Linked DNA regions of Homo sapiens: regions 1, 2, 3, 5 and 6 are each reported to be linked to region 4. The links are microRNA targets in miRTarBase. Many come from high-throughput screens and were not tested one by one. Region 4 holds a microRNA gene; each other region holds the end of a gene's coding sequence.
What was found. Region 4 holds the annotated microRNA hsa-miR-4282 (UAAAAUUUGCAUCCAGGA, at 2,166-2,183, opposite strand). A microRNA usually pairs through its seed, bases 2 to 8, with sites in the 3' UTR of a target mRNA and lowers its output. Matches are read on the target gene's strand: a 7mer-m8 pairs with bases 2 to 8, a 7mer-A1 pairs with bases 2 to 7 and ends in A, and an 8mer does both.

Region 1: miRTarBase lists ISLR2 as a target of hsa-miR-4282. Seed matches in the 3' UTR shown: 7mer-A1 at 825-831.
Region 2: miRTarBase lists TPD52 as a target of hsa-miR-4282. Seed matches in the 3' UTR shown: 8mer at 1,157-1,164, 7mer-m8 at 1,387-1,393, 8mer at 1,797-1,804 and 7mer-m8 at 2,027-2,033.
Region 3: the mRNA of LEPROT is a reported target of hsa-miR-4282. Seed matches in the 3' UTR shown: 7mer-A1 at 2,394-2,400 and 7mer-m8 at 2,479-2,485.
Region 5: the mRNA of HSPA4 is a reported target of hsa-miR-4282. Seed matches in the 3' UTR shown: 7mer-m8 at 1,777-1,783.
Region 6: the mRNA of ZNF239 is a reported target of hsa-miR-4282. The part of its 3' UTR that is shown has no 7-base or 8-base seed match.

The regions. Positions count from the first base shown.
Region 1 is chr15:74,134,670-74,138,777 of GRCh38, forward strand. ISLR2 (immunoglobulin superfamily containing leucine rich repeat 2) reads left to right here. Exons shown (of 3, transcript NM_020851.3): 3 at 1-2,133. The coding sequence ends at 323. Among named protein-coding and RNA genes, the nearest start is that of ISLR2, 6.1 kb to the left of the region's middle. RefSeq lists an enhancer at 1,161-1,852.
Region 2 is chr8:80,034,421-80,038,528 of GRCh38, reverse strand. TPD52 (tumor protein D52) reads left to right here. Exons shown (of 8, transcript NM_001025253.3): 8 at 294-3,784. The coding sequence ends at 413. The region is part of intron 5 of TPD52-MRPS28 (TPD52-MRPS28 readthrough); the gene reads left to right. Among named protein-coding and RNA genes, the nearest start is that of MRPS28, 6.2 kb to the right of the region's middle. RefSeq lists an enhancer at 1,483-1,532.
Region 3 is chr1:65,431,340-65,435,339 of GRCh38, forward strand. LEPROT (leptin receptor overlapping transcript) reads left to right here. Exons shown (of 4, transcript NM_017526.5): 4 at 464-4,000. The coding sequence ends at 580. All of the region lies in intron 2 of LEPR (leptin receptor), which reads left to right. Among named protein-coding and RNA genes, the nearest start is that of LEPROT, 13 kb to the left of the region's middle.
Region 4 is chr6:72,965,532-72,969,639 of GRCh38, forward strand. MIR4282 (microRNA 4282) reads right to left here and starts at 2,222; the gene lies at 2,156-2,222. All of the region lies in intron 1 of KCNQ5 (potassium voltage-gated channel subfamily Q member 5), which reads left to right. All of the region lies in intron 3 of LOC105377855 (a long non-coding RNA gene), which reads right to left.
Region 5 is chr5:133,103,790-133,107,882 of GRCh38, reverse strand. HSPA4 (heat shock protein family A (Hsp70) member 4) reads right to left here. Exons shown (of 19, transcript NM_002154.4): 18 at 3,857-4,018; 19 at 1,434-3,650. The coding sequence ends at 3,447. Among named protein-coding and RNA genes, the nearest start is that of HSPA4, 54 kb to the right of the region's middle.
Region 6 is chr10:43,553,057-43,557,164 of GRCh38, reverse strand. It overlaps ZNF239 (zinc finger protein 239), which reads left to right. Exons shown (of 4, transcript NM_001099282.2): 4 at 1-821. The coding sequence ends at 462. Among named protein-coding and RNA genes, the nearest start is that of ZNF239, 20 kb to the left of the region's middle.

The DNA of each region.
Region 1 (4,108 bases), not on the chromosome of region 4:
AGCGCATCGCCGCAGACTTCGACCCGCGTGCTTCGTACCTCGAGTCCGAGAAAAGCTACCCGGCAGGCGGCGAGGCGGGCGGCGAGGAGCCAGAGGACGTGCAGGGGGAGGGCCTTGATGAAGACGCGGAGCAGGGAGACCCAAGTGGGGACCTGCAGAGAGAGGAGAGCCTGGCGGCCTGCTCACTGGTGGAGTCCCAGTCCAAGGCCAACCAAGAGGAGTTCGAGGCGGGCTCTGAGTACAGCGATCGGCTGCCCCTGGGCGCCGAGGCGGTCAACATCGCCCAGGAGATTAATGGCAACTACAGGCAGACGGCAGGCTGAACCTCCGCCCGTCCGGCCCGCCCATTCCCGACCTCCACCTAGGGTGCCTGGGAGCAGCAGTCTAGGGCTGGCAGGACTTATGTCCCCCGTCCCCAACCTTCACCTACTCCTCCCCCTTACTACTCCCCAACCTTGACTACCAGGGACTTCTATTAGGGAGTGGGCCGATTTCACCAGTCCCTGCTACCCACGGCTGCCATTCTCCCTGCGGGCTGAATCCCCTTCCCCGCCAAGCACAGTGTTTATCTTACCCCATGCAAGACTCCACCCGCAGACGGTGGGCGATATCTATGTCCCTCCATTCCCGTCGCGATTATCTGCGAAATCCACCCCGCAGCCCGCCCCACCGTGGGCTCTGGAGCCAGAGGAAACGAGCGAAGACTTTGGAAACCTCGCGGTAACGCGGTGGTTTCGGGGGCCAGCCAAGGCCAGTGGAGTGCTGTGGGGTCCCACCTCGACCCCTCCTCCTCCCTTTCTTTCTTTCCTTTTTTTTTATTTTTTAATTTTATTTATTTATTTATTTATTTTTTGACGGAGTCTTGGTCTGTCGCCAGGCTGGAGTGCAGTGGCGCGATCTCGGCTCACTGCATCTTCCGCCTCCCGGGTTCAAGCGATTCTCCTGCCTCAGCCTGCCTAGTAGCTGGGACTACAGGCGCGCGCCACCACGACCAGCTAATTTCTTCTATTTTTAGTAGAGACGGGGTTTCACCATGTTGGCCAGGATGGTCTGGATCTCTTGACCTCAGGTGATCCATCTGCCTCGGCCTCTCAAAGTGCTGGGATTACAGGCGTGAGGCACCGCGCCCGGCCCCTCCTCCCTTTCAATCCCTACTCCCAGAAGCCGGGATTCGTGGCAACCCCTAGTTTTTAGTTCCAAAGCCTCCTGCCGGCAGGGAACCAAATCCTTCTGTCCTCCCACCCCCACCCCACTTCTGGCCAGTTGGAGTCCAGCCCGGTGCCTGGGGCGCCTTTCAGCTCCGCGCTCAGATTTTCCTGTTTTCGTTGTTTTCAAAGACAGCGACATTTCGGGTCTGGTGCTAACACCCCCTTCCCAGCCTCTGGGAAAATCGAGTGTGTGTGTCGGGGGGTAGGGAGGGAATGCGTTTTCTGTCGTCTCTCTCCTAACTTAAAGCGCCGCAGGACCGCGCGCCCCTTGGCGGCTGAGCCTGTGGACTTGGTCGCGGGCCAATTTCGTTGTCCGTGTGTTGGGCTTTCCGGAGGTCTGTGCGCCCAACAGCGCCGCTCCCGCGGCTCCACCCGACCCAGACCCTAGCTGGAAAGCGCCGGAGGCGGAGGAAGCTGACTGTGGCCTCCCGGGCCGCGGCTCTCTGGAGGGCTCGCGCCCTAGTTCGCACAAAGCCTGCTCGTGACTGTGCGACTGTGCGACGGGATCCGGATGGAGCCGAGCCCCTCCGTCCTCGCGTCTCGGTCCTCGCGTCGCCCCGCCCCACCCGCCCCTGCTTCGGCGGGAATCGTGTTTGCCCGGCGTGTAGTCCCTGACAAGCGTGCCCTGTAGGAGAAAAGTCTGTGTCCTGTGAAGTGTGACCGTGTAGTGTAGGGGGGCGGGCGGGGGGGCGGATGGGCGGGGAGGGAGGGAAGGGGAGGGGCGCGGCGCGGCGACTCGGGGCGGGGTTCTTTTTTCCATTTTGAAAGAAAGCGTCGGGGTTGGGGTGGGGGGAGTTTCAGTCCTCGGGATCAGCCCTCTCCGCGAAGCGCAGCACAAGCGCGGGCCTGGGACGGAGTAGCCCCCCGGAGCCCGTGCCCTTTTCTAAACGCGTCTGTATGCAGTCAATAAAACAATCGATTTGAACTGGGCTCGGTGACTTTTTGTCAGGGGACAGAGGGAGGAGGCCTGGGCGATGAAGGAGGAAACCGCGGAAGGAAGGAGCCCCCCCAGAGCCTCCCGTTGGAATCTTTTGAGTGATTTCCTGTTTGCGTGACCATCCTGTGATTTTTTTGCCAGGTGTTTGCACCCAGCCCTGCTCTTAGTGTCTCCAACTCCAGGGTGGGGTGACAAAAAACGAGGGCAGGCTGCAAGTGAGTAGGGGGAGGTTGCAGGAAAGGAAGGCGGGTGTCTGCAGACCCTGAACACAGGGAGTCTGAGTGTGCGTGCAAGTATATTTGCACTCAAGGGTGTGCGGCACCCTCTTTCACTTGAGACTGTCTGTGTAGTGGGGTGTGGCTGTATATGGTGTCACACTGCCCAGTTTCTGTGTCTCCACATCAGCCTTTGAGTTCCCTGAGAAGCCGGTGGGAAGAGGATGGGATTCATAGGGACAAGACCGCTGTGGCTTGCACAAGAGAAGTCACAAATAACACAAAGTACAGAGCGGGCAAATGATGTAAAGCAGGAAAGGGGGAGAACCTGGCCAGGCCGATTGCCCAGAGCGAGCCGGCACGTTTGGCCTGGGAGCCAAGTGTGTGCGTTGTGTGGGTGGGTGGGGAGCACTCAGTGAATGATGCATGCACAACCGTCAGGGTGTGCCAAGGGGGTGCACCTGGGGAATCAGGGTTGAAAACACACTGATTTCATAGTCCTAGAAAGGGGCTTTCTTGGGTGAGGAACAGGAGAGACAGGGGGATCAAGAAAGGAGACTGTGCTCCTGGCCAGCCTAAAACACACGGGTTGGGCTGCTGTGTGTCTCAGCTGAATCCCCCTAAGATGGGAAGAGGCGGGGAAGAGAGATGGAAGAGGAAAGCAACAGAAATGGGAAGCAGATAAAGATTCTCTCTCTCCCCTCCCTTCTTCCTGCTTCCAATTTCTTGTCCTCTTTTGCTGTCTCTGTGGGTCTTCCTAATTGGACCAGTCCAGGCTGGCAACAGGCCCAAGTTCCAATGCTCAGGGTCCTACCCCAGCCTCAGGTCTGTCCTCTGGCATAGGTGGTGGCTGTGACACTTCTTGGGGCCTGAGCCCAGATTCCCTTCCCAGACCAGCAAAGCTGTTTTCTTTCTTTTTTTTTTATTTTTTTATTTTTAAAATAGATCAGTTTTATTCTGCTAGTTCCATAAAAACAATGTAAACACAAGCGTTCTGTACATCTTCTTGGTGAATTCACATAATGCTTTGTTCCCTGATCCTTTAACCTCCTCGTCTTCTTCCAGTCATTTTCTGTTTGGACCACTGGCCACAGGAGTGGAGTGGGGTTGGGGCTTAGGAGAGAGCAATGTGGCTTTTTCGTATGACTTGTTTTATTGCTTGCCCTCTCAGCACACTCCTGTTACTCCTAACACAAAGTCTGAGATTTAAGCCCTTAAACCTGTAGGTTTCACCATCAGCTTTTTCTTTTTCTTTTCTCTTTTTTTTTTTTTTTTTTTTTGCATAGGCATTACTAGGGATGTGAATGGGAGACTGGTATAGAAAGTGGTGAGGAGCCGAAGCCAAGAAATTGCTTTAAACACAAGATGAAAACGCTCTGTTCTGTACACAAAGAATCACCTAATACTGGTGTGAGGCATCTCACTTAGCTGTGGAGAAGTCCTTGGAATTAGATCTCAGAAAGACAGTTCCAGCTTTAAGACAGTAAAACCTTTAGGCAATGGGCTAATTGCCTTAAAGGAAAGAAGAGTTCTACTTGAAAGAGCTTGCAGGTGAGAAATTGTCCTACAAAGATTCTTAGAAATGTTAGCGGAGATAACTGACATGGGTAGCTGTGGGCCAACCAAGAACTGTCAACAGCCCGATCTCATAGCAAAGCTGTTTTCAAGAAAAATTCCCTTCTGAGGGCCACAGCCTGAGCCCTGCTCCTGGTCACAGCCCAACACTGCAGTCCACCCCACTGCCTGGG
Region 2 (4,108 bases), not on the chromosome of region 4:
TAGACCTTACAAAGTTTTCTAGACAGACTTCCTGTGAAGAACAAGGAGCAGGGGGAAAGGGGAAGGGGTAGAATTTACCAATCTGAATATTTCAGCAAGGGAGAATGCATGAGTTTTACTATAAAACCACACTGAACATTGCAACAATACTAAATTCCATACATATATAATAATCACTGAGCTATAAGGTTGCTGATGTATTTGTTCTTGAAAGTGAATTAGAGTTACTTTATGCAGAATCAGCTAGTTTTATGTTTCATAATGTCTTTCCCTTTTTTGAACTTTTTTTTAAGTCTAAAGTAGGGGGAACCAAGCCTGCTGGTGGTGATTTTGGAGAAGTCTTGAATTCGGCTGCAAATGCTAGTGCCACCACCACGGAGCCTCTTCCAGAAAAGACACAGGAGAGCCTGTGAGATTCCTACCTTTGTTCTGCTACCCACTGCCAGATGCTGCAAGCGAGGTCCAAGCACATCTTGTCAACATGCATTGCCATGAATTTCTACCAGATGTGCTTTTATTTAGCTTTACATATTCCTTTGACCAAATAGTTTGTGGGTTAAACAAAATGAAAATATCTTCACCTCTATTCTTGGGAAACACCCTTTAGTGTACATTTATGTTCCTTTATTTAGGAAACACCATTATAAAAACACTTATAGTAAATGGGGACATTCACTATAATGATCTAAGAAGCTACAGATTGTCATAGTTGTTTTCCTGCTTTACAAAATTGCTCCAGATCTGGAATGCCAGTTTGACCTTTGTCTTCTATAATATTTCCTTTTTTTCCCCTCTTTGAATCTCTGTATATTTGATTCTTAACTAAAATTGTTCTCTTAAATATTCTGAATCCTGGTAATTAAAAGTTTGGGTGTATTTTCTTTACCTCCAAGGAAAGAACTACTAGCTACAAAAAATATTTTGGAATAAGCATTGTTTTGGTATAAGGTACATATTTTGGTTGAAGACACCAGACTGAAGTAAACAGCTGTGCATCCAATTTATTATAGTTTTGTAAGTAACAATATGTAATCAAACTTCTAGGTGACTTGAGAGTGGAACCTCCTATATCATTATTTAGCACCGTTTGTGACAGTAACCATTTCAGTGTATTGTTTATTATACCACTTATATCAACTTATTTTTCACCAGGTTAAAATTTTAATTTCTACAAAATAACATTCTGAATCAAGCACACTGTATGTTCAGTAGGTTGAACTATGAACACTGTCATCAATGTTCAGTTCAAAAGCCTGAAAGTTTAGATCTAGAAGCTGGTAAAAATGACAATATCAATCACATTAGGGGAACCATTGTTGTCTTCACTTAATCCATTTAGCACTATTTAAAATAAGCACACCAAGTTATATGACTAATATAACTTGAAAATTTTTTATACTGAGGGGTTGGTGATAACTCTTGAGGATGTAATGCATTAATAAAAATCAACTCATCATTTTCTACTTGTTTTCAATGTGTTGGAAACTGTAAAATGATACTGTAGAACCTGTCTCCTACTTTGAAAACTGAATGTCAGGGCTGAGTGAATCAAAGTGTCTAGACATATTTGCATAGAGGCCAAGGTATTCTATTCTAATAACTGCTTACTCAACACTACCACCTTTTCCTTATACTGTATATGATTATGGCCTACAATGTTGTATTTGTTATTTATTAAATTGTGATTGTTTTATTATTGTTTATGCCAAATGTTAACTGCCAAGCTTGGAGTGACCTAAAGCATTTTTTAAAAGCATGGCTAGATTTACTTCAGTATAAATTATCTTATGAAAACCAAATTTTAAAAGCCACAGGTGTTGATTGTTATAAAATAACATGCTGCCATTCTTGATTGCTAGAGTTTTTGTTAGTACTTTGGATGCAATTAAAACTATGTGCTATCACATGTGAAAAGCTTAATAAATTCCATCTATCAGTAGTATAGGTCTCAATATTTATTATGAGACCAGTGGTCTGGAAACAGCTTGTTGTACCGAATCAACTGGAGTCTATGCTTAAAAAAAAAAAATTTTTTTTTAACCATCCTTAAATTATTGCTTAATGGTATCATATTAACATATTCTAAATAAGGGCTTTAAGGCACAGGCTGTTGAAGCATTTTCTCAGAGGAGTGGATCTGTAGAAGTCTGTCTTTCTATAGAAATATTGTGCTTACTCAAGTGTTAAATTATTTTTTCTATGAACTAGTCTACTTCTTAAAATTCAAACATATTCTTTTGATCACATTGTTTCTTGAGCATCCTGCCCTGCTACTAACTTTTCAACAAGGCAAAATGGAGTAAAGTGGCAATTTCTTTAGATGAGTGAAATACCCTCAAGTCTCTTTTCTGCCCAAAAAGGGAAAAGTGATAGAAATGGGGGTGGCAAGTGGGGTGAGTGGATGAAGGTGGGTATTGGGGGTGGCTGTGAAAGAAAATAATGGAGAATCACTTTTCTAGACATCTACCTATACTTAATCTAAGAAACAAAGTAATCTACTGTAAAGTACTCTGCCCCTTGAAAGAAGTATTAAAAAGAGTGAGGATGGATTTAGAAAAAAACATGAATTTAGAAATATTCAAAATGGTTTTTGTGGCAGATTCAATATTATGAATTCACAGATATTTAAAGAATGAGAAACATAGTAATTAGTAGAAATGCCAGAAACAGTTCCTGGTTCCTCTTGTGTTTGACACTAAGAAAATAGCAAGAGTGTGAAATCTCAGATACTTATGAAATCTCACAGATGTAAGGACTCAAGTGTAGAAGAAAATATCCCCTTCTTACAAAAAGAAATGTCAATTTATGGAGTTTGTGGGAAATAGGGCAAGAATTCTTATGCTTATGAGAGCCAAGTAGTCAGTGGAAGAGAGTAGAGCTCAAAACTGGATTATCACCTTAGCAACTTAGAATAGTTTGAAATAGAAAAAAAGTATTTAATTTGGATCTGGATCTGTTAAGATATGCACAGTCTATTTTTTGTATAGTATTGGAAAATAAAAATGCTATAATTTGGGTATGGGTTCTTTTGTATACATTACCTGCCCATTGAGGAAAGGGGCAAGTCCATTATGCAACTTCTCTCCAAACCCTTCATATTCTGGATATGATACTTAAAGAGCCATGAGCAGCTACATTCTGCCTATCAGAAGGCATTTATTAAATGACTGCTTGCTGAAGATGTGTCCAAAGAGATCCTACATTAAGGTCATTTGTCAGAATGATGTTTGTGTTTGTTTAGAGTTGGCTGACCTCCAACTCCTGGGGTCAAGGAATCCTACTGCCTTAGCTTCCCAAATAGCTAGGACTATAGGCATGCACCCGGCCATGTGTTTTATTTATAGCTCTTAAAGCCCAGATGAAGAAATCACATTTTTGCCCATAGTGAAGAAACATTTGGCCATTGATTAGTCCTTATTTTCAGTGACTGTCCTGTTTTCATTAGATTAGAGAGACCCTGTGTGGGCCACAGTTAATATAAACCATTATCACTTTTAAGTAAACCTGCACATCTTAGATTTCATAATTTCCTTATTGTTCTGACTCAAAATGAACTAAGAGCTTTTCACTTTTTGTTTGTAAGTTCTCAGAGAGTCGGGTCTGCAAGTGCTTTTGCCTGCCAGGATTTTGTACTCAAATAAATGCTATTTGGCAACTAAAATTCTTGCCAGCTCTCATGTAATTTTGATGTTACTGAGGTTGGTTGGTAGTTTATTTTATTAATTTTGTGGTTCTTCTATCATATAGAAAAAGCCAAATACAGTTTTGTTTGAATATTTGTAAATGGACGTGATCTTTCACTTTACCACTCTCCAGCATGCTTTAAAGTTTCTCCTTGGTTTCTAGAATTGATTCTCTGTTCTTATTTTCCATTTTGACTATTTTTTAGTATTAGAATTCTTCCAGCTCCTAAATGCTATTGTCTATCTGTTGTTATCTTCTACATGATCCCCTTAATGATCTTATCCATTTCTATGGGTGAAATGACTATTTTTAGAGTGATACTAATAGCTTCCCAACCGGTATCTCCAGACTTGTTGATGGTGGTGGCCCTCCTTGAGCAGCTGCTGCAAGGACACCAGCTGCAGCAAGGGAAGCATGGCTGGGG
Region 3 (4,000 bases), not on the chromosome of region 4:
ACCATCTACTAAGCTGGAAAGCAGTTTTCAGTTGTATGAAGACTATTATTTAAAGTCTTTTCTTGCCTAGAAAAGAAACACACAAATTTATAACTCTACAATTTTTATTTTCCATGAAAGAAGTTGATGTGTGCAGAACTTTCAGTACCCAATATTGTAATTGCACTATTTATAATCTTACCACTTGAGTTTTACTTAAGGCAATCATTGTCAATTAAAAACAAGTAGAGAAATATGTCTAATTGGGAACATGTTAAGGATGATACCAGACTTAATTAACAAGCATCACAGAAGTAATTAGACTCATTACTGAACAGTTCATTGTCTCCTGTTACATTATTAAGCCTTTTAGCAGCTTTGTGTAACATTTCATTGGATGTTTCTAATGCAGAAAATAATAGGGATTGCAAAGAGTACAATATGAAGGAAGTAAGGATTTAATCCTTCTTTTCTTGTCTTTCAGATCAAATGGGGAGCCTGCGGCCTTGTGTTGGCAGGCAATGCAGTCATTTTCCTTACAATTCAAGGGTTTTTCCTTATATTTGGAAGAGGAGATGATTTTAGCTGGGAGCAGTGGTAGCACTTTATTCTGATTACAGTGCATTGAATTTCTTAGAACTCATACTATCTGTATACATGTGCACATGCGGCATTTTACTATGAAATTTAATATGCTGGGTTTTTTAATACCTTTATATATCATGTTCACTTTAAGAAAGACTTCATAAGTAGGAGATGAGTTTTATTCTCAGCAAATAGACCTGTCAAATTTAGATTATGTTACTCAAATTATGTTACTTGTTTGGCTGTTCATGTAGTCACGGTGCTCTCAGAAAATATATTAACGCAGTCTTGTAGGCAGCTGCCACCTTATGCAGTGCATCGAAACCTTTTGCTTGGGGATGTGCTTGGAGAGGCAGATAACGCTGAAGCAGGCCTCTCATGACCCAGGAAGGCCGGGGTGGATCCCTCTTTGTGTTGTAGTCCATGCTATTAAAAGTGTGGCCCACAGACCAAGAGCCTCAACATTTCCTAGAGCCTTATTAGAAATGCAGAATCTGAAGCCCCACTCTGGACCCAGGACATTTTGATGAGATCCAAAGGAGTTGTATGCACATGAAAGTTTGAGAAGCATCATCATAGAGAAGTAAACATCACACCCAACTTCCTTATCTTTCCAGTGGCTAAACCACTTAACCTCTCTGGGTGTTACCTGCTCATTTGTTTAAAAAAAAAAAAAAAGTCTCACCTGCTTTCATGCTGAGGACAAGTTCAGATGTTCAAGCCTATAATATTTAGGCAGTTCCTCAAATTTATGAAAAGTGTTCTCAGAATTGGGAGACAGTCAAAGGGTACAAAGCCTCAGTTAGGAGGAATAAGTGTGATTTTTTTTTAAAGATCACTTGCACAGCATGCTAAATATAGGAATAATTGAATGTATATTTCAATATTGCTAAGAGAGTAAATTTCTAATGTTCTCATAAAAAAGTTAAATATTTGAGATCATATGTTAATTAGTGTAATCATTCCACCTTATATTCAAAAATCATAAAACCGTATTGTACCCTATAAAAATATACAATAATTTGTCAATATATAATCAAAATAAAAAACAAAACATACTCTCTCCCCCAAAAAAACATCTCAGTGGGGAACAGATGTATCTTTTCATCTGAAAGACAATGCTGGGGGAAGAGCTCCACTGAGATGCGGGCAGGGAGGCTGGGCTCGAGCCAGCCCCTGCGTTAGCAGGAGGGGGAGAACAGATAGGTAACTCTTTTACATTTCCTTTATGATCTGGCACTTCTCCCCAGCTCCTTCCCTCTGCCCCCCACCCCTACTCCTCAACAGTTCTGGTTTGCCCTGACTTCTCTACGGCTCTGGCTTCTTCCCGAAGAGATATAGGAGCCATGTAAGCACGCAGTGGGTGAACTGCTTAATTTCACTACGTGTTGATGTACTTGTCTTCCGTCCTGTAGGTCTTTTCTATATAACTTTATGCCACCCTTAAATGAATCATTGGGTATACCTGTCATGTTGGATCCTGTAATCACAGTTTTCCCTGCTCACCTTTTTGTCTAAGATCTATTGAGAAAGGGAAATATGGGAAGGAGAACCATTTGATCAGAATACAACCAATAGTCTTTAAGCATTGTTAAAGTATGAAACTGAAATACATTCAAAACACTTAATCCTTGAGGCTTGTGATCTGAGTAATTAGCAGGTATGATGCTGGGACTGGAAAATAGAAAGTAATAACTAAAGGGTTAATGTGCAACGTTATTTTTTGGCCTTGTTCATGATTTTATGTTTTCAGTGTCCTGTGTACATATAGAATTGTTAAAGTTGTCATTTCCAATATTTATATTAGAAAAATTATTTAGATACTTTATAATTTTAACCGGCATTTTTAATAATGACACTTGCATTTATTGTATTGTAATAAATTTCACTTTTAACTTTAAAAGTTTAACTTTAAAATTTTTTTGTGATGTTGCCTTGCCTGAAAAGATAACAAAAATGAGAGAATTTCTTGATGTTTTAAAATGGGCAGTTTTGAGCAATAATCTGTCCTAACAGAACAGTAGCAATAAGTTTTAGGATACCATCTTGAATGTCTAGTTGGTGTGCAATAGCTTTTCTTTCTAAGATGGCAATAATGATTCATTTCTACTACATTTTGCAAAAGTGTTTTTGTTGCTTATACACATTTTCAATAACCAAGGTAGCCTTCATATGTAGCCTTAAAGCATTACCTCTTGATTGTATCTTTAGATTGATATAAAGTACTTGCATATAGAGTATTTGAAGTGATAGATTATTAGATTTGCTCTATGTCTGAAAAGAGAGCTATTCTGCAGTGCCTAAATATCATTTAAACAGTAAATATTAATAGGAAATATTGCTATATCTGAATATATAATACAAAAGTTTGATCATGGTGACACAAATGTTGGACATTTTTTTCCTTATAAAAGGCTCTTTTTTTATATATTGTACAATATATTTGGAGATTCAGAGCATAGTGACTATAGTCGAAAACTGAGATTGCACTTCCAAAATTGGCCACAAGTAAATAATCTTATGAAGGGATTCTTTATCATGTTTCAAACAAGTGGGTTACAAGCAGACTTTGAGACACTTTTCCACAGAAACAATACTATGAATTGGTGATTGAGTTCCCAGGCCAAGCCTCCCTCAACAGGTTCAACTCTAATATACCTAACCTGTGATACTGAAGGTGCCTGCCTGAGTTTTGGGTCTCTGAGACAGGGTAGTGTGAGTAGTTTGGAGGAAGGACAGTGCAACTTTCCACCCCTTTTCCTAAGAACAAGGTCTTTCTCCTTTTAATTTTTCCACTCATTTTCACCTCCTAATGCCCTTGAGATCCAGGTACACTCCTGGGAGTTTTGTTCACCTCTCCCAACTGAGAACCTTCCCACTGGGCTCCATCCTCCCTCCTGAGGTTCTTCATATTCCAGAGTCACCCACCCTTCTCCTCCCATTAGTCAGTTCTCTAAGTACAGCTGATGTCATGTGGTGCTGAGAAGAAAGCAGATCACACTTCATCACAGAAAGAATGCCTTGTGATTATCTTCTCCACATCTGAAATTCCTTTTGACACCTGCATTGGGCCGACTGCCATTCCCATGACTGCTGCACCTGCGTTTTTAGAGAATGCCTCATAACCCACTGATTCTCATTCACAGAGAATGGGAGAACGGAATGAAGAAAGATTCCAGCAGCTTATAGAAGGATAGCAATATTTTGGGACAGGGAAAATCCTGTCATACCTCATCTCTTCCTCAGGAGGAGTTCTGAGCTGGTCCTGCTTTTCATAGTTGTTTCTTTTCTTCCACTTAAGAACTCATAGATTTTTCTTACTGTCCTAAGGAAGTCCTTACCTCTGAGGTATCTCCTCAATGAATACTGTTTTCAAGGCTGAAATAGTTCATTATGTTAATAACCTTCTTTATGTTCTCAGGGAAATGCTTAGGTG
Region 4 (4,108 bases):
TCAACATTTCATCGTGAACTATTATGGCCTCATCGGGAATGTGAAGTGTGTCATCTGAGCAGATGTTCTTATTGTTTTCCTATCCACTGACCCACAGCATCAAACAATTTAGAGGAGAAAAGTGGTCCTGTCATCTCCAGAGTTATTATCTATTTTATTTTTAAATCCAAACTTCCACAATCAAGTTGCTATTAAGGTTTATCTTATTAGCATTTAAATTTTTAGGAAATGCTCATTACTGGGTTAAGCACAAAAAAGTCACATTGCTTGAAAAGTGCTATTTGTAAAACAGAATGGCCCACTTTGTCTATGTGTAAGAGGATCTGCTGCACATTTTTACCTGGAATAATATTGTCATGGATTTGGACATATGTGGAAGTGCTATTTGTGTTTATGCAGATCAACCTCTTGGTTTTACAGAAGAGAGATGCCAGTCCCAGGGAGGTTAAAGTGCCTGCCCAAGGCCGTGTGCTGGAGCAGAAGGGGAGGTGCTGCCTCCAGTCGAGTTAGAGCACTTCCCACCATCCACCACCATCAGGTCCTGAAGCCAAATACAGAAGATAGCATATATTTTTATTACTTTGAGATATCATCCTGAGCCCAAGAAGAATTTCTTGTTGCTGTCTCATAAATATATTACTTTGTTATTTATTAGTTTAGGCAGTTTATGACTAGCAGTCAAATATTCCCAATAAGGTTCGAATCAAAAATGTTATTTTGTTTTTGTATTATAAAAAGAAAAGCAGGCTAGGTGTGGTGGCTCATGCCTGTAATCCCAGAACTTTGGGAGGCCAAGGCGGGCGGATCACCTGAAGTTAGGAGTTCGAAACTAGCCTGGCCAACATGGTGAAACCCTGTCTCTATTAAAAATAACAAAAAAAAAAAAAATAGTTGGGCATGGTGGCAGGCGCCTGTAATCCCAGCTACTCAGGAGGCTGAGGAAGGAGAATCTCTTGAACCCGGGAGGCAGAGGTTGCAGTGAGGCAAGATCACCACACTGCACTTCAGCCTCGGTGACAAGAGTGAAACTCCATCAAAGAAAGAAAGAAAGAAAAAGAGAGAGAGAAAAAAAAGAAAAGCATATTTTGAAAGGTATCCTCTTAAATTTGTGGTGACCCTCAAATATTTATGCTAAAACTTAACTTTCAGTATGGAAACAGAAACATGGGTTCAATTTAAAATCCATGACTGGATCATGAGCAGGGCAAAGTGAGAGGCATTGTGAGATAGGGCCAAATGCTTCGAGAATTTACTCCATACAGACTGTGTTCAGGAACCCAGCACTTCCTCTGTGACTCAATAACTGGCACATATGGTTGCCAGGGACTACCAACAGCTGATTTCAATAAAAGTTACCCAATTACACCTTGAAGACCTGTTGTTTCTGGAGGGAGTTGGAGGAATTAAGGAATGTGGACTGAGTTTTTAAAATATATCTTACAGAAGTCAGAGGAAGATATAGAAGGACAGGAATATACTCAAGATACAATATTTTCTTCTACTGTACTTTTTGTTACATGGAACAGAATTTTAGCATTGGATCCCTTCAGCTGTGACAAAGGAGAAGGTCCATGGTTATAAAGTTTTCCATTAGACTCTCCTCACACACAGGAAATGAACTTCCATAAATTTAATGATATGACTCTTAGGGTTTTATTTCTCCCATTTTATAACCCTCTTTAGGATAGAAACACATTTCTTGCACTATAAAAATTTTAGTCAGCAAATTTTTCATATTCTCACTGGGATTTCATAATCAGTCTGTACACCCTTCCTATGCAATAACTTTTGATCAGTATAGTGAAATATAATGGTATTATGTAATTTTAAGATGTACATCTTAAAGACAAAAAAATATCCCTTTATTTAATTCAAGATAAATAAATCAGTGAGGAAAATGTATGGTGAAAAGTTTGGGCATATATTAGTTATCTTTCAATATATTTTTCATTTTTTTCTTTTTATTTCCTTCAACCATATGATGCAATCAACGGATATTTGTTGGGTGCTTTGATGTTTTCAGATCTATGCTATGCACTACAAGGGTCTCAAAAAGGAATGAAGAACAAAGTCCCTGCTCTCAAGAATGTAGAGTTTTCCATACAAGGTTCTAAAAACCATTAAGGTCACTTAAGATATCAGTCAGAAGGTGAATAGGATGATGTTCCTGGATGCAAATTTTAGAAATGTGGCATACTAAAATCTTCCCCTGGAACTTCACCATTCACACCTAAGAAGTTAAAGATGTCTCAGTAGGTTCTCACTATGTTGTCTAGGCAGGTCTCAAACTTCTGGCCTCAAGAGATCCCTATACCTTGGCCTCCCAACGTGTGGAGGTTACAGGCATAAGCCACTGCACCTGACCCATTTTCTCCTTCTGAAAACTCTTTTGGATTTTAGGATACCATGTTCTTTGGATTCTTCCCTGCTTACTCTGACCTTCCTTCTTGACCCTCACTGTCTCTTCCTCATTCGCAGGGCCACTTCTCCTTAGCGACCCCAACACAACCAAGTCTCAAAATTGGACATCTGATATATGTGACAAAGATATGTTTTCATTTATATAAAATGTGAATAGAAACTTACATACACACACACAAACATACAAACACACACACACTCACAGTGTCTCAGAAGTTCTGCAACAAAGAAATACAGTTATTGTCATTGAACCCAGAACTCCCTAAGTGTTTTTGACAGAGCAACTTTTTCTTGAGACAGATCTATAAAAATCTCTTGGGATAGTGGTGTTCTATGGAAAACAGTCTGGGGAATACTGAATTAGAGAACCGTGTGAGACATTTTATTATTAACATGCAAACTCAAAGTACTGAAAGTGTAGAGAAGAGAAATATCATTATGATCTAGACGGGTGAAGAAAAGAATCTCAAAGGAGGATAGACTTTTAAAGAAATAAGTGAAAAAAAAAACAGAACATGTGATGAGGAGGGGGAAATTCAGATTATATCTCCCAAATTGATGATATTGATTATTTGAAAGAGGAAGGCAAAGGTGTAGACAATGATTATTAGGGACTTTGACTTTCTAAGTTATACATTTCTATATTGTTTATGTACTTGTTTTTACAAAGTTTTACAAATGTTTTATGAAGTGGCTTATTCTTATAATCCAGAGATATTCTCCTAAAACTAACTAAAGTTTATTTATCAGATTAACTAATGATGTGTATAGCTCTTACTTCCACAATTATCCATATATACATATATGCAATATTTACAAACATAGAGATGTACAAATATAATATCTCGGCCAAAAATAATTGAAGCATCAAAGTCAACCTACATTGTAATCTTGGGCAGCACCTGTTGTTTATTCATCTCTCAAGTGTGGCTGACTTCAGGGATGAGAATAAACAATGTGATCTCTTACTAAGCTTCCCTTTGGACTAGTCATCCAATTGGTATGTGATGACTTTATACCTGAAACTAAGGAGTTGAGGAATAAGCTGAAAATAGCCAACTTGGGTTTCCTAAGTACAGTTTGGCTTCTGTAAGAACTGTTTGGTTGCTCCTCAATTTCAGTGTATTCATTTTTTAAAGTATATTTATTTTAAAAGTGGCAAATTCAGGTATTACTTAATAATTAAGAAGCATTTATGCCCAAACACAATATATGTTTACAACCAAATTTGAAAGTAATTGAACTGATAACCCTTTAGACAAAGGAGATGTGTTATAATAAATATTATTGTCAGCTTTCCTTCATCTTAAGATTTTTTGAATCTTGGAAGAAGATATGCATGAACTTTGTGTTGGGTATTTATAAATGTATACACATATATACATAGCAAAATGTAAGCACAATACAGGTATAACATGTAAGGTTAGACCATGTAAACTTGCTGAAATTCAGTTGTTTCTGACCTACAATAATGGCAATTTCATATGGTTGAACCTAATGGTTTGTCTCAGTCATTAGTTAGTGGTGCCTCCTCCCCTAGGTAGAGTTTTCCAATTGTGTTGGGATGGTATTTTCACTCTTGTAACATTCCCAACTTGTATCAGAATTCCCTTCATCTTCCCTCCTCTACTTTTATATTATTCTATTCCGTCATTTTTCTCCTAGATACGACTGGACAGATTGTTTA
Region 5 (4,093 bases), not on the chromosome of region 4:
CGTGGTGGCGCACGCCTCCAGTCCGTTACTCGGGAGGCTGAGGCAGAAGAATCACTTGAACCCGGGAGGCAGAGGTTGCAGTAAACCAAGATCCCGCCACTGCACTGCAGCCTGGGTGACAAAGCGAGACTCCATCTCAAAAAAAAAAAAAAAAAATACACACCTTTCTGTTAAAGCCACTTAAAATTATTGAAATAGATCAAGTGTACATGAGTACACTATCAAGTCAGATCAAAAAACAAGCATCACCAAGCCTCACATCATGTTGTCACTACTCCACAAAGAGTAACTACTATCCCAACTTCTAAAGCATGGTTTTCAGCTGGAACCATGCTTACATCTTCCCTCTTCCTGCAGGTACCAAAACCAGCAATTTTCCCCTTCATTTGGCTGTCCCCTCAAAGGTGGACTAAGTCCCACTACCTCCAACAACCCCCAGGCCCCCTGTGCCCCTGCAAAGCAGCTCCCACTGCCCCACAACAGAACCCTGATCTCTCAGGCCCCCACCTTTTAAGGAGACAGGGTATCACTTTATCACCCAGGCTGGAGTTGCAATAGCACAATCTCAGTTCACTGCAGCTTTGACCACCTGGGCTCAAGTGATCCTCCTGCCTCAGCCCCCCAAGTATCTGGAATCACAGGTGCACACCACCACACCCAGCTATCTCAGCTCTTTCTACCACATCTAACAATTCCCCTACAGAAACCACTTACATGCTCAGGAGGAAACCAAACCTACTAGACACACGTTTCTCAGACACGTGGCTACAATAGGCCCTGGGTAGGCCCTGGCAGGTAAGCTGCTCCTACAGCCAGAGGACTAGGACTGTGCAAGGGGCATGACCCAGGGAACAAGACCCCTGACCCCTCCTCGTCTAGACCCATGCCTTATCCAGTTAAGGTCTTTTTCACTGGCTTAGTGCCCTTTAAACACCCATCACCACCACATACATACACCAACACACATTCCACGCAGCCACACCACACATCCAGTGGCGCCAACTATTCTAGCACACTCTGGACCGCGCTGTTCTTTGGCCAGGTGTAAGTCCTAGCACTTACCTTTATGCCATAACCCCCGCCTTCTGCTAACAAAACCCTCAAAGTAAGGCCCAGTCACAGGAGCAAGACAAGGATTCCTAACACCAAAGGAACTGGGCCAAGACTCAACTGGAGAGTTTGAGTACAGAAAAATTAGGCAACATTTTCTCACAAAGTAGGCAGTGTGCTTCAGCTGTCACTCTTCAGACTGGAAGTCTTCAACGGATGTTAAGTGAAATTTAGCTCAGAGGGTTCCTACTCCTAGAGAACATTTTTATTGAAAACACACCCCCCGCCCCCACCCCACACACACATACACACAGACACACACACATACACACACACCCCCACACACACACCCAGCAGCCTTCATTATGGAATTAAGGAAACCATTCAAGTTTAAGACAGGTTTATTTTATTAGTTTTTCCTAAACTTGTCTCATGTTTACTGAATGATTTTCTTAGTGTAAGAACGTGACCTGGAGCTTTAACAAATCAGTTTGGATAACGCAACCTGGATAAATGCTTGTCTGTACACAAGCCATCAATTACCACTCTCTGTCCTGGCCTCCATGAAAATCCAATTGGTCTTAAAGCCTGTCTAAGCAGAGAGCAAGCAGACCACATCATCGTGTTTCAACTTGAAATTCACCCCCATCCCAGCACCCACACCCTTCCCCACACACACACACACACACACCAAAAAAAAAAAAAAAAAAAAAAAAAAAAAAAAAAAAAATTTTTTTTTTTTTAAGAAGAAATGGCCATTACGGTCTGGGCCAGTTGTAAAGGGTTGGCTTAATCCTGCAGCCAGCACTTTTAAAATAGCTACTGGCTTCACAGCAGGCCAGCTGGAACTCTTGAAGCATGACAGGTAGAGAACAGAGGATGTGCTAAGAACCTGGCCTTGTTGTGGTGCCTCGAGGCCTCCATGCATGCTTACACACCAACATAAGTATACTTTCCCCTTCCTCCTCCTAAGCAATTGTTCTCCATTGCACTTTAGAGCCTGTAACACTCAAACTTTTCAATGTTATCTAGAGATGGACAAACGCTTAATTCTAACTATGCAAGATAGCATCTTATTTCTAACAACATAGGCCAAAAGTAACAGAGAGGCACTCTGTTATACAGAATATCAATTTTTACAAAGATTCAAAACATTACCAACAAGCCCTGTAACAGTTTCTTAAAGCAGGTACCAACTCTGGCCTCAAACACAGGCTTCCCTTGGAGTTTCCAAAATGCCTCACTCCTGTCAACACTGCCCCAAAAAGCAGTCAGAGGAATGCTTTGGTATACCTGACATTGGCCACACAGTTAAGAATGAGGTGTTGTTATAACATCAGGCACCACACTTCTTTAACACTAATTTCAGACTCATCCAGTACAATCCAGTGTATCTTAGTTTTTTTTGCATCATCTGTCAGCTGCTTAACACGTACAAATTGGCAGGTTCATGACAGATATTAACACTTAACACACAAGTGATTGTGAATGAGCTAAAAAGAACTTTTAACTCTTGTTCTAGGAGTTCAAGCTATACCTCAAAATTATACAGAACATCTCCCACCTGAATAAACAGGCCAGGATACAAATCTTTACACCAAAATTAACAAGGATTTAATTCCTCAGTTAAATTTACCATGGCTATATCCAACAGTATATCTACCCAATTCTAATCTTCTGAAAATTATTTAGACCTTGATGCTTGGGGTATTCATGAACATACTTTCAGGAAGAGCCTCCAGGTTTAAAGCCCTCAGTTAACAACTTACTCTAGGCAAGGGGGTCTATTTTCCCAAGAGAAGTACATGGCATTTATAATGGGAGCCCTTTTATTGGGAGAGAGGGAAGAGAACACAGGTGAGGGTGAAGGTGAAATATGAAGAAGCTCAGAGCACACCTTTGTTCCTCTGCCGTGTTAATCCATGCCGTGCCATGCTCCAGCCCTCACAAAGAGGGGGACCCCATCCCCACACCAGGCAGGGAGCATTTAAAGCAATCTCCACAACAGATTTTTAAAGCATAATTAGAGCTCCTGCCATGTAAGTCATAATGAAAAGTCTGCTGGATAGCTAGAGCTGTAGCTATAGCTCAACTTTCCAAAACAAACTTATTCTTGTAGACACATGGTTAAACATAAAGGAGTGAAGCATAAGCTCAGTAAGACTAACTGGGCTTCTAAATAGTACCATTATGAAAAAGATACAATGCACTTAATTTCTGTATCTAACTATTTAGAAGTGAAAATGCTCCATACATTACCTATTTCCCCTCCCCGAAAATCCCCTAAAAACTGACTAAGAAATCTTCAGTATTCACTTGCGCTAGTTGATATTTAGAACAAAGTTGACAACTTAAAGCTTTATAATAGTCTGTTTTAATAGAAACAAGTGTTGGAATCAATCAATGTCCATTTCAGGAAGCTTCTTGTCTGAATCCGAAGGCACAGCTGTGTCTGTACCCTGCTCAGCAGCCTGGGGGCCTGGGTTGTCTCCTTGTCCATCCACTGGTCCATTCTGCTCTGCATTTTTTTGTTCCTCTTTTGGAGGTTCCACTTTGGGTTTGGGCTTTGAAATTATAGGGCTACAAGTACTTGTCAGCTCCTGGAATGGGTAAGACAGAAAACTGGTTTCTTATAAAATTAACAAATTTTACAAGCCATGCTAAACCCAAATCCGCCCTCTCCCACCACCCAATCCTCAACCTAGAAGCTAAAACACTATAATAAAGTTCCCTCCTAAGTGTCACTTGAGGACTATTAATAATAAGGCTGTCAAGAAAAGACTATTAAAAAAAAGTCTTAAATTACCTTAATTTTAGCTTCAATCTCTTTTGACTTGACAACTGGATCCATGGTCAAACTCTGCTTGTTCTGCAGATTTAGCTTGTTATTCATCCACTCCATTGCTTCATTTGTGCTTTTTTCTACCTTTGTCATGTCAGCAGCATCCAAATGATCATACTGGTCCTCCTGCAACCAGGAGACAGTCAAACAAGTGCTAAAAGTGTGATACCCTCCCTCCCCGCAACTACTGTCTAGTTTCTG
Region 6 (4,108 bases), not on the chromosome of region 4:
CTGCACATCCACCAGCGAGTCCACACTGGAGAGAAGCCCTATGAGTGTGAGGAGTGTGGTATGAGCTTCAGTCAGCGCTCAAACCTGCACATCCACCAGCGAGTACACACAGGAGAGAGGCCCTACAAGTGTGGTGAGTGTGGGAAGGGCTTCAGTCAGAGCTCGAACCTTCACATTCACCGGTGCATCCACACAGGAGAGAAGCCTTACCAATGCTATGAGTGTGGGAAGGGTTTCAGCCAGAGCTCGGATCTTCGCATCCATCTCAGAGTCCACACTGGAGAGAAGCCCTATCACTGTGGCAAGTGTGGGAAGGGATTTAGCCAGAGTTCCAAACTCCTCATCCACCAGAGAGTACATACTGGAGAGAAGCCCTATGAGTGCAGCAAGTGTGGGAAGGGCTTCAGCCAGAGCTCCAACCTTCACATCCACCAGCGGGTTCACAAGAAAGATCCTCGCTAACTGACATTAGCCCATTCAGGTCTTCACAGCGCTCATACTGTAAAAACTGTTAAATATTTAGTATCACTCTTACTTTATATTCTACAAAGGAGAGAGATGTAAGGGTTATTTAGATATGTTCCCTCACTGAAAAATCACTCATTCAAAATATTTAAGTATCAAGCACTTTGTTATGCTGTACAATGAATGGATTGTTCTTGTTTCTCAGATGGGTAGAGTAAAAGTGTCTGTACTTTACAATTCAACTACATGTTCTACCCAGCATTTTAACGGCAAGAACTTTATATTTATTCTCAAGCAGGGCATGTTTCCCTTTGTTCACATTCTCTGAGAAATTGAAACTCTGGTTTCTCTTCAAATTTTGTGCCTTGTGTTTTTCATACTTCTTTCCAGTCCTGATTAGCCCCCTCTAAACTATGATTGTACACTGCGTCCATTTTAGGCCAAGAGGGCAGTTGGAAATACAATGGACATGGAAATTATTGTGTTTATTGCAAAAAGATATAATAGTTTGTAGCCACACAACAAAAAGCTGGAAGAGAGTTACTCATGTAGTACATTCCCATATACCATTTTGATAGGAAGTTGAACAGCCCCTCCCAGGCAACTATTCAGGAACATAAGTAGTCCTTTTTGGTGAGTACAGCTAGTTTATTGGGATACTTCCAGAGTGAATGTGAGGAAGGGTCCAAAGTAACATGCCTGGCACTTTGGGAGGCTGAAGAGGGTGCATCACTTGAGCCTAGGAGTTCGTGACCAGCCTGGGCAACATGGCAAAATCTTGTCTCTATAAAAAAGTGCAAAAATTAGCTGGTGTGCTGGCACAGACCTGCAGACCCAGCTACTCAGGAGGGGTACCTGAGAGCAGGTGATAATAACAAATAGGTTCCAGAGGCAGAGCTGGAAAAATGAATACATAAGGAGCAGGGGGCAGCTTAGAGGCTGCAGAAATCATGTTGGGGCTTGATAAGCTAAAAATGGCTAGCACAGAAAGTATTCGAGAATGCACTTTTGTTAAACATGTCTCATCACATTGGACAACATTAAGATGCGAGGAAAATTTAATTTATCAAACTACAGCAATAAGGAGAATAGGAGAAAGACTATCAGCAAATGAAAATTTGAAAGATGGAAAGATAGCCAGTAGAGCAGAAGCAGGCACAGTTATGCTGCTTGCATATGGGGATAAGGAAAAGAAGGAACCAATTTGGCACCAGGCTCAGAAATGCTTAGTACCTTGGAAGATGGGAGTGAGATGTGAAGAGAAAGCAATGAAACTAATGGCCATTTGTATATGGAACATACCTCCTCATTACATAAACACACACTGCTCCCCAACTCCTGTACGTGGCTGACCAGAGGTTTAACGTCCAGCAAGAAATGGGAAGTTTCTTCTCTGCAGAAGTTGAATGGCCCCAAGGGAAAGACCTCTGTATTATGGGAATTCGGGAATCCTACAGCAAAGCTACTTTCTAGCTTAAGTACACATAAACAGAGCTTCAAAATTCATGAAATAAAAACTGGCAAAATTGAAAGAGGCACAATTTCAATTATAATTAGATAGTTAAATAAGTAATTGATAGCACAAGTCACTTAGGAGGTATAAGCCTTGAACAGCACTATCAACTAACTTGACTAATTGGCATTTGTAGAACACTCATTAGCATGATATATTAATATATTTTTATTTTTTAGGGACAGTGTGTCACTCTTTCACCCAGGCTGAAGTGCAGTGGTGCAATGAGTTAATTGCAACCTTGAATTCCTGGGTTCAATCAATCCTCCTGTCTCAGCCTCCAGAGTAGCTAGGACTATAGGCATGTGCCACCACACCCAGCTATTTTTTATTTTTGTAGGGATGGAGTCTAGCTCTGTTGCCTAGGCTGGTCTCGAACTCACAGGCTCAAGCAATCCTCCCTCCAGGACCTCCCAAAGCACTGGGATTACATATGTGAGCCACTGTGCCCAACCTGTATACATTCTTTTCAAGTGTGCCTACTATGGACTGTAATAAAACAGTCTTAAAATTTTTTAAAGAATGAAAACCATACAAGGTATATTCTCTCACCAGGACAGAATTAAGTAAGAGACCAATAACAAAGATGTCTGAACAATCTCTTAGTATTTGGAAATTAAACAACATACTCCTAAATGAGCAATAAAGAGAAAGTAAGAAAAATTTGAAAATATTTTGAACTGAATGAATATGTCAGAATTTGTGAAATGTAGCTAAAGCAGTGCTTAGAGGTGAAATCAGAGATAAAGATTTCAATTCGATAGTCTAAACTTCCACCTTACGAAATGAGAAAAAGAACAGAAATCATCCAAAGCAAGTAGAACAGGAGATGATACAGAGCTAAAAGTCACAAAAATCACAAGTGGACAAACAATAGAGAAAATTTAATGGAACCAAAACCTAACTCTTTGAAAGGGTTGAAAGGATTCCTGTATCAGGAATGAAAGAGTAAATATCACTATAGGTCCTATACACCAAGAAGGTAATACAGGAATTTTATTAGTAACTTAATTCCAATAAATTCAGCAACTTAAATGAATTGGAAAATTTTATCCTAAGGACTATAGAACCAAAGCCCACTTGAGAGAACTTGAATAGTCCTATTAAATTGAATTTTTAGCTGATAACCTTCCCCCAAAGAAAAGTCATGAGACCAACATTGCCCAGATACCAAAGCCAAAAAGGACATCATAGGAAAAACTCATAGATCAATATCTCTTAATATAGATGTAAAAATCCTTTTTAAAATACCAAGTTGAACACAGCAATCTATAAAAGGAAACACATATGGCCAAGTAGGGTTTATCCTAGAAATGCAAGCTTTAACATTCAAAAAGCAATGTTTCATATTAATATTAAAAAGAAAAACCACAATTTTTTTAATGTAGGAAAACATTTGAAAAAATTTAACACCCATTCATGATAAAACCGCTCAGTTGATTAGGAATTAAATTGAGTTTCAAGAATCTAAGAAAGAGCATCTATGGGAGAACCTACATCTGACATCGTACTTACTGGTGAAGTAAAAAGCACTTTTCTCCTAAGATTGGAAACAAGAGAAAGATGTCTAGTCACCACTTCCAGTCAACCTTGTAGTGGATGTCCTAGCCAGTACAATAAGCCAATAAAAAAGAGGCTGGGTGTGGTAGCTCATGCCTAAAATCCTGGCATTTTTGGGAGGCCAAGGTGGGAAGATTGCTTGAGCTTAGGAGTTCAAGACTAACCTGGACAATATAGTGAGACCTCATTTCTACCAAAACTTAAATAAAAATTAGCCAGGCATAGTGGCATGTGCCTGTAGTGCCACCTACTCAGGAGGCTGAACAGGAGGATCACTGGAGGCCCAGGAGATCAAGGCTGCAGGGAGCTGTGATCGCACCACTGCACTCCAGCCTGGGCGACAGAGTGAGACCCTGTCTCAAAGAAAAGGGATACAGAATGTGAAAGAAGGCATGAGACTGCTGTGACATGATTGTCTATATGGAAAAGCATAAAGTGTCTGAAAATGTTTTTAAAACTAGTAAGTATGTTTAGCAAGGTCACAGGATACAAGCTCAATATTTTTAAAAAGTTGAAAGTATGAAAACGGCATCAAAATTATGAAATGTAGGGACAAAGTTACTAGACCTG